Homo sapiens: one gene and its partners. Changing the gene in region 1 together with any one later gene gives a genetic interaction. Each region holds a gene or a part of one and is shown on either strand. Other genes may lie near its edges. The genes, in order: PNISR, MED23 and AURKA.

Evidence for each region.
Region 2: changes in PNISR (region 1) and MED23 together harm fitness more than expected from each alone (negative genetic interaction), as found in Homo sapiens cells (one large-scale study listed by BioGRID).
Region 3: changes in PNISR (region 1) and AURKA together harm fitness more than expected from each alone (negative genetic interaction), as found in Homo sapiens cells (one large-scale study listed by BioGRID).

Annotation. Positions count from the first base shown.
Region 1 is NC_000006.12:99,408,300-99,411,955, reverse strand, and holds part of PNISR (arginine/serine-rich protein PNISR), read left to right. Parts: exon of another isoform or gene 1-991; coding exon 992-1,215; coding exon of another isoform or gene 1,216-1,239; exon of another isoform or gene 1,240-2,610; intron 2,611-2,611; coding exon 2,612-2,783; intron 2,784-3,656.
Region 2 is NC_000006.12:131,618,233-131,621,888, forward strand, and holds part of MED23 (mediator of RNA polymerase II transcription subunit 23), read right to left. Parts: coding exon 3,649-3,656; intron 2,498-3,648; coding exon 2,396-2,497; intron 1,665-2,395; coding exon 1,595-1,664; intron 288-1,594; coding exon 175-287; intron 1-174. UniProt on the Homo sapiens protein: Required for transcriptional activation subsequent to the assembly of the pre-initiation complex. Component of the Mediator complex, a coactivator involved in the regulated transcription of nearly all RNA polymerase II-dependent genes.
Region 3 is NC_000020.11:56,385,579-56,389,234, reverse strand, and holds part of AURKA (aurora kinase A), read left to right. Parts: intron 1-450; exon of another isoform or gene 451-826; coding exon of another isoform or gene 827-923; intron 924-1,032; coding exon of another isoform or gene 1,033-1,037; coding exon 1,038-1,079; intron 1,080-2,701; coding exon 2,702-2,978; intron 2,979-3,656. UniProt on the Homo sapiens protein: Mitotic serine/threonine kinase that contributes to the regulation of cell cycle progression.

The DNA of each region.
Region 1 (3,656 bases):
CTATGGAGGAATCAGCCTCTCATTTGGGTATGCTGATGGTGAAGTCATAACCTCCTTTCCCTATTAATACTTTTTGTTTCTCCTTATAAGAATGGAGACCTCAGTCGAGACCAGCCTGGGCAACATAGCAAGGCCCTGTCTCTACAAAAAAAAAAAAAAAAAAAACCTTAAAACTTAGTCAGGCATAGAGGCGCATGCCTGTAGTCCCAGCTACTTGGGAGGCTGAGGTGGGAGGATTGCTTGAGCCTAGGGGATTGAGACTGCAATGAGCTGTGATCACGCCACTGCACTCCAGCCTGGGTGACAGAATGAGTCCCTCATTTAAAACAAACAAACAAAAAAAACGAGAATTCAGATTACTTTTAAAAACATAAATATTCTAGTCTTTGATACTGTGAGGTGGTTCATTTCTAGCTTTCTTGAAAGTGAAATTTCCCCACATTTGAAAATGTTTTAGTTCCTAAGTTTAAGTTCTTAAATGACTCCCGCGGGCATCCCTACCCCTTAGTTTTACTCTACTTTGTGACCCTGGGCAAGTGATTTACCTCTGTGTGCCTCGATTTTCCCTCCCGAAATTGGCAAAAATAATACCTAATTTCTCCCTACCTCACAGGGATGTTGTGAGGATAAATGTGTTCGTGTAAGAAAGAAATTATATAAAACCTCAAGGTATTATTTTTGTGGTGTTGTTACTAAACAAATATAAAAATTCAACAAAAATAGTGCTTTGGATTTTGTTACATTTGTTAAAAATAACTTTGGGCATTTGGTTAGGATATGAATTAGAGTGGAGTTAGCTCATTTTGAATTATATATGACAGTTTAGTTCATTGCTTATTTTTAAGATAAACAAAAGGAATTTGACCAAGAAGTCATAAGTTGTTTTTTAAATCTGTATGTTTACTGAAAAATCTTTCTTGAGATCTTAAAATTCTGTGTTGATTTTGTTATAACCGCCTGTTGAATGTTTTTATGCCTAAATCTTAAATAGAATGGGGAATGCATCAGCAACCCCCACACCCCCCTCCAGATCAGCCATGGATGCCACCAACACCAGGCCCAATGGACATTGTTCCTCCTTCTGAAGACAGCAACAGTCAGGACAGTGGGGAATTTGCCCCTGACAACAGGCATATATTTAACCAGAACAATCACAACTTTGGTGGACCACCCGATAATTTTGCAGTGGGGCCAGTGAACCAGTTTGACTATCAGGTGAAAGATATTTTGTTGCTTTAATATTGTAGATGTGCACGTAATCCATTCTTTGGAAGTGTCTCATCAAGAATACCTAAGATACGTGTTTCACTTTTCAGACTTGTATAAATAAGCACATTCTGTCTCAGTTATCAATTTTTGAGTATTAAAATAATTAGAATTTGTTTTCTGATTTTTTTATTTCATTAGGAAAATGGTATAAAAGATCATTACGGAAAACTTTTGAAAAAATTAAAAATGTATAAGTGCAATAGCTATATGATGTTTTATTTTCTAATTTATATTTCAAAATGGTATATTTAAATGTTAAAGACTAGAGAATGCACAGTAATTGAATATAGCTCATGGTTAAGACATGAATAAAAAATATAGATCATTTTCCTAAGTGTAATTCCTTGTGCTATGTAGAATTATGACTGTTTTTCTAGTGTCATTTTTTTTCCATTCTGACATGACATGTTAATGGAATTGTATATAATTTCCTCTGTAGCATCCAATTCATTCCTAGGGACATAGAACTCTGTGGGGAATAGTGTTGTATGTTGGGCTTTATTTACTTCATTCCCTCTGCCAGGGTCTACCCTTAAATTATAGTGCTAGGTGTCATTTTGAAATAACTGATTGCAATTATTAACTTATAAACTGCTATCATAATTTAAAATTTTGAAAGAATTATTTCATGAATTCTAGGGTAGATTTGATAATGGACATCTAGTATTCACCTTGAGATGGTAATCCTCTCATTAATAAATATTCAGATACTTGTATACTTGGTATACAGATACAACAGTTTTTATGTTGTTTGAAGAAATATAATGGCAGGGAGCATCTGCTTACCCTACTTTTGCATGGTAGATCCCATGTAAACAAGACAAAGAGCTGTATTGGCAGCTGGCCTAGAAAAGCCTCTGAAAATAGCAAAATTGCAGAAAATATTTAATGATTCATTAACTTCTATCTTTGCTTATAAATGAATATATCTGCAAGATTATAGAAACAGCTTAAGTTGTTTAGTTCACTTTTTGTTCACTGTAAGTAGGATGTTGAAATTGACAAAAATGTCTAGTTAAAGAGAAATTAGTATCTATTTGATGTCTTAGTGTTGGTAGGATTAGCTTGTAAATGGATTCAGAATGAAAAATTTCATATACTTCTTGAAAGTAGCTTATCAGCTGGCTTTTAGAAGCCTCTTTGCATTTACATAGCCGGAAAATCTTAAGACAAGTAAGCCTAGGTTCTTGGGACCATAGAAGTATCGGTGGATATTAGAGCCATGGAATTCTTGGATGTGCTGCACACATGGATTTCTACTGTCCCAGTTCATAACACACGTGTGTCCCAGAGAGTATATTGTATTAATTTGAAGAAAAAATAAACTGCAATACTCTTTCAGCATGGGGCTGCTTTTGGTCCACCGCAAGGTGGATTTCATCCTCCTTATTGGCAACCAGGACCTCCAGGACCTCCAGCACCTCCCCAGAATCGAAGAGAAAGGCCATCATCATTCAGGGATCGTCAGCGTTCACCTATTGCACTTCCTGTGAAGCAGGAGCCTCCACAAATTGGTAGCTATTTAACTTAGTTTAGTGGACCACAATTGGCATGACTTTTTTATCATATAAAAAGGATGTCTTGTTTTCTTAAAATTGTTTGAGTATCTCTGATGTGTTAGGAATTGACACTTTATTTTTTATGGTCATAAAGCTTAAAATTACAAAAATGATACTGGTCTGAAATTAAAAGGTTTAAATAATTTTATTTAAACCTTTACATTAAATTCCAGATTTTGTGATGAAGTGAAAATTTATGCTAGCCATAGCATGTTGGTATTTTCTTCAGTGTAGGCATTTCAGTACATTATACAGATATATGAGCCCTTCTCCTTTTAAATCTAATTGTTCAATCTCTGTCCACTCTTAGTTCATCTGATGCACTGCTGTCAGATTAATTTTCCTCTGGTTATTTCACTTCCCTTAAGTATTTTGGCAGAAAATTTCAATTTTTTAAATAACATTATAGAGCCAGCCTATTTCAAGTGACAAATACATATTTATGCCACTTTATATCTGGAAAGTTCTAAATTGTTCAGTATTTAATGGACAGGAGCATTTGTTAATAAATCTTTACTTTTTACATTTTAGGAAGATTCTAACTTTACTCCTTTTTTAACTTACTAGCAAATCACTTAATTTTTTCGAGTCTCAGTTTCCTCACCTGTGGAAAAAAGTGGAGTAATAGTAGTGATCTCTGAGGGCTTTTGTAAGGATTAAATTAGATGATGGTTTAACATGCTTTCATTGTGTCCTGGCAGATTGTAAGCACTAGAGCAGTGGTCCCTGCTGTTACTAAAAGTGATGGCATTGAAGAAAGGCATGATATTTAATGGGATATTTTTTAAATTTACTCACAAGTTTGTAGAAATATTTTACTTAACTGAC
Region 2 (3,656 bases), about 32 Mb from region 1:
GCATAAACCACAGGGTATATTTAGATACTAGAATAACATGATAAACTATAAACTATCTTTCATTAAATATTTACTTCTTCAGATTATGAAGCAACAATTTAGCATCACATATCTTATAATCTAGGTTGAAGACTGTCAGATGGACTAAAAGTGCCATTATATTTAGCAACATACCTTATCATATGGCAAAAGGCCTTTCAAAGGAAAACGAAGAGTAGCAGGATCCAGTTTCCATGAATTACAAATGGCACCCGAATTATTTACAACTGGCAGAAGACTACAGCGACCTGTATGTATTACAAAAATGTTTTTAAGTAAATGTGAACACAGCAGTACTTCATTCACTTCACAAATATTTAATGAACATATATGCTGAAATAGGCATTGGTTTGGTTTAAAAATGGCTTATAAAAATGTTTCAATGAGACTGAAGGTTGGGAATTTTATTTTTAGTTCAGATAGTTGAAGATCAATTTGCACAGGCTTTCCAAAGTTGAAAATATCGCATTTTGTCTAAATGTCTAGGGCAGAGATCAGCCAACTATAATCCATGGGCCAAATCCAGCCTGGCACCTGTTTTTGTAAAGTTTTATTGGAACACCACTGCTTTTGCAGTCCAATGGCAGAGCTGAGTAGCTGCAACAGATTCTGTAGCCTACGAAGCTTAAAATATTTACTACATGGCCCTTTACAGGAAAAAGTTTAAGACCACTAGTCCAGTGTCAACATGATTAAACTTTATGCACGATATTCCTAGAGGCCTTAGATGTCACATATGACTATCAGCTCATACATCCAACTGCCTAACAAATATCGTCACTTGGATGTCCTACAAGCACCTCAAGCTTAACATGTCTCAAATTCATCATCCTTCTCCAACCTACTTTGCTTCCATAATTCACTACATGATATCAATATCCACTCAGTTACAAAAGCTAGAAACCTGATAATTATCTGTCTAGTGTCTATTTAGATTGTATTTGTATTTTCAGTATCTAGAATAGCACCTGGCTTATAGGAAGTACTCAATATTTGATCACTGAATAAACAATGGTCTATATTTCCACACAGTTGAGGTCACCATGATTTCTAGAAATAATTAAAGAGGATATGTGGGCACTGCAAAAATTGCCAAATCACATGGTTATTTTTAAAAGAAAGTTCAGAGACTCTAACAAAACATGGGAAAATGCGAAAGGAAAAGCAAAAGTGGGAATTAGAATGGGCTGAGTGAGCCTGACACTTTCACGTTCTGTAGCCACAGAGGGACAGGTCTGTTCAGACTTCCAGCTGCCTAGAAATTCCATGGTGCTTTACTAGCTGTATTAAAATGTCTTTCTAATCACCAAGAAACCCACTTCTAGAATGGTTTTAAATGAAGCTTAAACCCATTCCAGAGAGTTTCTTTTTCCTCCCTGTACTTGGCACACAGAGTAAGTGAAAACAAGGGAAAGGCATTATATTAAGCTCTTAGAGAGTCACCAAAATGACAAGCCACCAAGGCACATATTAAGAGAACATCCCTCAGCTTTGTTCAATAATTAGATTACTAAAAATCAGGTACTATTTGGCATATTTAAAATTATAATCCTACCACAAATGGAGTTTATCCTTGCTGTGGGCCTGAAGGTATCCACAAAGTCTGATACTAGGTTTCCAAGTAACTAAAGAGAGAAAGAAAGAGGGAAGTCAAATAAATACGTACAAAAGGAAAATTGAGACTGCCCCTGAAATATATGAACATTTATATAAAATGAGATAATATATGTAAAGATTGCACATGATAACTGTTTAAAGGTTAGCTCCCTTTTGCTTCCTTCTAAAAAATCACTCGCCAGTTCATCTGTCCCTTAATTAAACCAAGTCACACCACCATATCCTTAGCTATTTGATGAAGCTGATCATATTTTATTACATGGCATATAAATTCTCAATGGAAATGGAAATGAAAGAAATACATCATGATTAAAAATATACATATTATCTAAGGATAAAAGTCATCATTAAAAAAATAAGCACACAAAAATAAGATTAATATAACTGTTTTTTATAAAATACCCTTTTTTGTGTGTGAGACAGGGTCTCGTCCTTTTGCCGAAGCTAGAGTACAGTGGTGTGATCACAGCTCACTGCAGCCTCAAACTCCTGGTTTCAAGTAATCCTCCCACCTCAGCTCCTGAGTAGCTGGGGCTATAGGCATGTGCTACTATGCCTGGCTAATATGTGTGCGTGTGTTTTTTAATGTTTTGCAGAGACAGAGTCTTGTTATGTTACCCAGGTTGGGTCTTGAACTCTTGTCCTCAAATCATCTTCCCACCTTTGCCTCCCAAAGTGCTGTGAGCCACGAAGCCCAGCCGAAAATTTTTATTAAAAATTCAGGAAATATAAAATTTACCCAGTGTGGAAGTTTGCCTTCAGGATACAGTTTCCTGATCTCAGTGACTGCAAAATAGGCTGGTAATAAGCAGGCATTTCTTTCCAAGATATATGCTATAACCTAAGAAAAACAAAAAGGCCACATCATTCTTGACTAGTCCCACATATAAGCCCTTTATTTTATTTATTATCATTATTTTTTTTTTTTTTTGAGACAGGGTCTTGCTCTGTTGCCCAGGCTTGGAGTGCAGTGGCGTAATCATGGCTCACTACATCTTCAACCTCTGGGGCTCCAGTGGTGTTCCCACCTCAGCCTCCAGAGTAGCTGGGACTATAGGTGTATGCCAGCAGGCCCGGCTAACTTTTTAATTTTTTGTAAAGACAGGGTCTCCCCAGGATGTCCTGGCTGGTCTCTAACAATGGGCTTAAATGAGCCTCCCGCCTTGGCCTCCCAAAGCACTGGGATTACAGACATGCGCCACTGCATCTGGCCCATGTGAGCGTTTTAAACACTACAATGACAATGACAACAAAAAAGACATTAAAAAGTAGAGATGTTACTTTCTGGAGAGATGTTGGTCAAAGGACAAAATTTCACTTTGACAAGAGGAATAAGTTCAAGAGACCTACTGGACATTATGGTGACTATGGTTAATAACGATATAGTGTATACTTCAAAATTGCTAAGAGAGTAGATTTTAAGTGTTATCATTATAAAAAAATAAGTATATATAATATATATACACACACACAGACAATTGCTACTTGTCAATTAAAATAAAATATAGAGATATTATTTAATGGATTTATTGGGTTTCAACTGTAGCAAAGAATACATTTATATGTAAAAAATATCTAAAAATAAAGATTAATAAACAATGGAATGGATTGTTCATGGTTAGTAAATAACCTTGCACATGCTTTAAATATTGGCACACTTAAACAGGAGTGCAACAGACCAACGTAACAATTCTTGCGATACTAGTTACAAAGTACAAAGATCTTTTAAGTGGTCCATATGCTAAGGTCTTGTAATGTTTAAGCTATTTTAATTTCTATTTCATTGTTTTCATAATTTAAAACCATGAATTAAAATTTAAAATGTCCTTTTGAAATATAAGGGAACTAGCATCTTTTAAAATAGAAGTGATTTTTTTTTGGTAGAAGAAATAGAGCATCTCACAAAATACCGTAAGTATTAAAAGCACAGACCTAAACAAAGCTAGACTTTTTTGAGGTTATGATCACGAATTTCAGACATGTCTAAATTACCTCTCTTG
Region 3 (3,656 bases), on another chromosome or scaffold:
GTAGATGGAGAAGTGGAGGGTCCAGGGACTCGTTCTTGAGTCACCCCAGACCCTTGATCTGGCAAAAATGAGACTGACCCAGCAAGGAGGGAAAGACAGGACGACTAGGTGGTAGATAAACCTGGAAGTGAAGTGAAGAAAAAAGTGTAAGATGTGATCAACCTTGTCAGATTCTGCTGAGGATGCAAGTACGGGGAAGGTGGAATTGACCCTTGGGTTTGGCAGCAGTAGGTGTCAGCCATGAGCCTGACAATGTGGTGGAGACAAAAAAGCCAGGTGGGGATGGGCTCAGGGGAGGGGAGAGGAGCAGTAGAGGTGGCAAGTGTGGACGGTTCTTCTGGAGCTTTGCTGTTGGAGAGGAGGGGGTCATTGTTAGCAACGATAATAGAATAAAGAGGACTTTTATTTTATTTTATTGTTTTGAGACGAAGTCTCGCTCTTTTCCCATAGGCTGGAGTGCAATGGTGTGATCTCAGCTCACTGCAACCTCTGCTTCCTGGGTTTAAGTGATTCTCCTGCCTCAGCCTCCCGAGTAGCTGGGATTACAGGTGACTGCCACCACGCTCAGCTAAGTTTTGTATTTTTAGTAGAGACGGGGTTTCACCATGTTGGCCAGGCTGGTCTCGAACTCTTGACCTCAGGTGATCCGCCCACCTCGGCCTCCCAAAATGCTGGGATTACAGGTGTAAGCCACCATGCCCGGCCTAAAGAGGACTTTTTTAAGGTAGCAGGTATGCCAGTAGGCTGCACAGGGATGGAAGTGATCCATTAGAGGAGAGATGATGGAGCAGCAAGACCATCAGGAGTGAAGACTCCGTGACAGAGGATGGGACGCAGTGCCCAAGGGGAGGTTGGCCTTGCAGGGAAAGCACATGCCTGTCCCTCCCTCATTAGCTTCATTTGGACAAAACATGTAAAATCCGGTGTGTTGTGGAGGCCTTTTGATTGGGGAACTGTAACGCTGCCTATCGAGCAACAGCACTTTAAGCAGGTGGCTTTGTTCAAATTAAAGGTTCTTCTTTTTCTTTTCAGGCATCATGGACCGATCTAAAGAAAACTGCATTTCAGGACCTGTTAAGGTAAATTGAATAATCTGTAATCTCATTCACATTTATAAACCCACATGGAGGTTGGTCTTGTCGGGAATTCTTTCCGCCTTTACTTTGGATTTAAATTTAGATCCCTTACTGTGATCCTGGATATGAATTAGTCACTTTTCTCGTGTTCAGTAACATTTTGCTGCTTCTTAGAGTAGCTTTTTTGTTCTGCTTTGTCTTATAATCGGCTGCTTAAGTTTCTATATCCCTCCACTGTATGCAGGATAATAGTAATAATGCATCTGGCAGGAGTTCAAAACTTTTAAAATTGGCCATAAATATAAAATAATTAGAAAAAGGCTACCTTGAATTACTGTATTTGATTCTAAGTTCCTATGATAACGGCCATTTAAAAAATTGCTCTATATTTAAAATGTTTCTTTTTATTTGTCTTTGTCTGAATGCCTGCTGCGTTGTGGACAGTGTGCTAATTTCAGGAGTAACTGACTTTGTATTTGGAAGTCTTAACACCCTCTCTTTGTAGAGCACTCATACCGTTGAGCTGGGGATGGACTTTGAGGCTTTCATTTCTAGCACTTGTCCCTCACTTACAATGAGCTGTTGAAGCTGAAGGAAATCTCATCCCTCCTACCCCTTTTAGTTTGATTAGCTGAGGGTGTTAGAGTTAACTTAACAATTTAAGGTTGTAATACAGTACTTACAGGCGTATAAATAATACATTTCAAGGCTGGGCGCGGTGGCTCACGCCTGTAATCCCAGCACTTTGGGAGACCAAGGAGAGTGGATCACAAGGTCAGGAGTTCAAGACCGGCCTGGCCAAGATGGTGAAACCCTGTTTCTACTAAAAATACAAAAAATTAGCCAGGCGTGGTGGCAGGCGCCTGTCGTCCCAGCTGCTTGGGAGGCTGAGGCAGAGAATTGCTTGAACCTGGGAGGCAGAGGTTGCAGTGAGCCGAGATCATGCCACTGCACTCCAGTCTGGGTGACAGAGCAAGACTCCATCTCAAAAATAATAATAATAATACATTTTAGTAGTAACTTTGTGAAGTGTCTACATTTGTTTCCTCTTTGTCAGTTTTTTGCTCAATTCCATTTTGTCAATACTTGGAAAATGAAACATTGGTTAATCAATAGTACAGTAATAAGCTTATTGTGGAAAATCTTCGATATATGAAAACTTAGACTCTTCTAAAACTTCATGAAGATAATACCACTGTTGAACGTTTTGACGTATTTTTTTTTGGTCTTTTTCTTAAACGTATATTATCAAAGAAATTTCAATGGAACTGAGATTTTGGCATAAAGTTTTTGTATCATAGCTTTTTGCCAAATAGCAATGTAGTGTCTATTTCCAAATTATTGAGAAATTTTAGAAAGTGTCTCCTTCATTAATGGATATTTGTTAATAAAGCATGATTTTTAGGGGTGAGGAATTGGAGGGGATAGAAGGTATCATTCAGGTATTCTTAGCCACATACTAACTATCCTCTGGAGGTACTGATTAAAATACCTTTTCACCTTCCATCTCTTATCAGTGACATTCATTATTTTGCTATACTAGAGAACAAACTTTGTGAAATTCTCAATATATTCATCTTTTGCTTTCATGAATGCCAGAAAGTTTATTTTCTCTTCCATTCTAGGCTACAGCTCCAGTTGGAGGTCCAAAACGTGTTCTCGTGACTCAGCAATTTCCTTGTCAGAATCCATTACCTGTAAATAGTGGCCAGGCTCAGCGGGTCTTGTGTCCTTCAAATTCTTCCCAGCGCATTCCTTTGCAAGCACAAAAGCTTGTCTCCAGTCACAAGCCGGTTCAGAATCAGAAGCAGAAGCAATTGCAGGCAACCAGTGTACCTCATCCTGTCTCCAGGCCACTGAATAACACCCAAAAGAGCAAGCAGCCCCTGCCATCGGCACCTGGTAAACTAGCTTTTGAGACTCATTGGATAGTCCTTCTTTGTCGTCGTTGCTAAAAAAGCCAGTGTATATACTTGCACTTATTGTTTGGAGCCTTAGCTTTTATATCTGTTGAGGATGGGGAGAAAATATGGTGTCTGGGTTGAAGTAACAGTGTCTGCCCATGGGCCAGACCTATGCTAAAAATACAGACCTGATTCTCACCCTCTTGGAAGAGTTGGGCACCCAGGGAGGACACAGCATAAATTGGTGTCCTTTTGATTGCTTGTTACTGAGTCTGGATGTAGGGTGCTTGCAGTAAGTGACTTGAAGGGACTGAGATCTAAAGTGTGGGGGAAATCCAGAGAAGTGGGTGAACTGAGGCAGGCTGCGGTGAGGTCACCATGGGCATTGCTGGCCATGTTAAGGAATGGGGCCTCATCTCTAGGGCATTTGGAAGCTACTGAAGCTTTTTTGAACTCAGAAGGGAACTCTGCCTTTTAGAAAGTTTACTGTGGAAGGCCAGGCGCAGTGGCTCACGCCTGTAATCCCAGCGCTTTGGGAGACCGAGGCAGGTGGATCACCTGAGGTCAGGAGTTGGAGACCAGTCTGACCAACATGGAGAAACCCTGTCTCTACTAAAAATACAAAATTAGCCAGGCGTGGTGGTGCACGCCTGTAATCCCAGCTACTCAGGAGGCT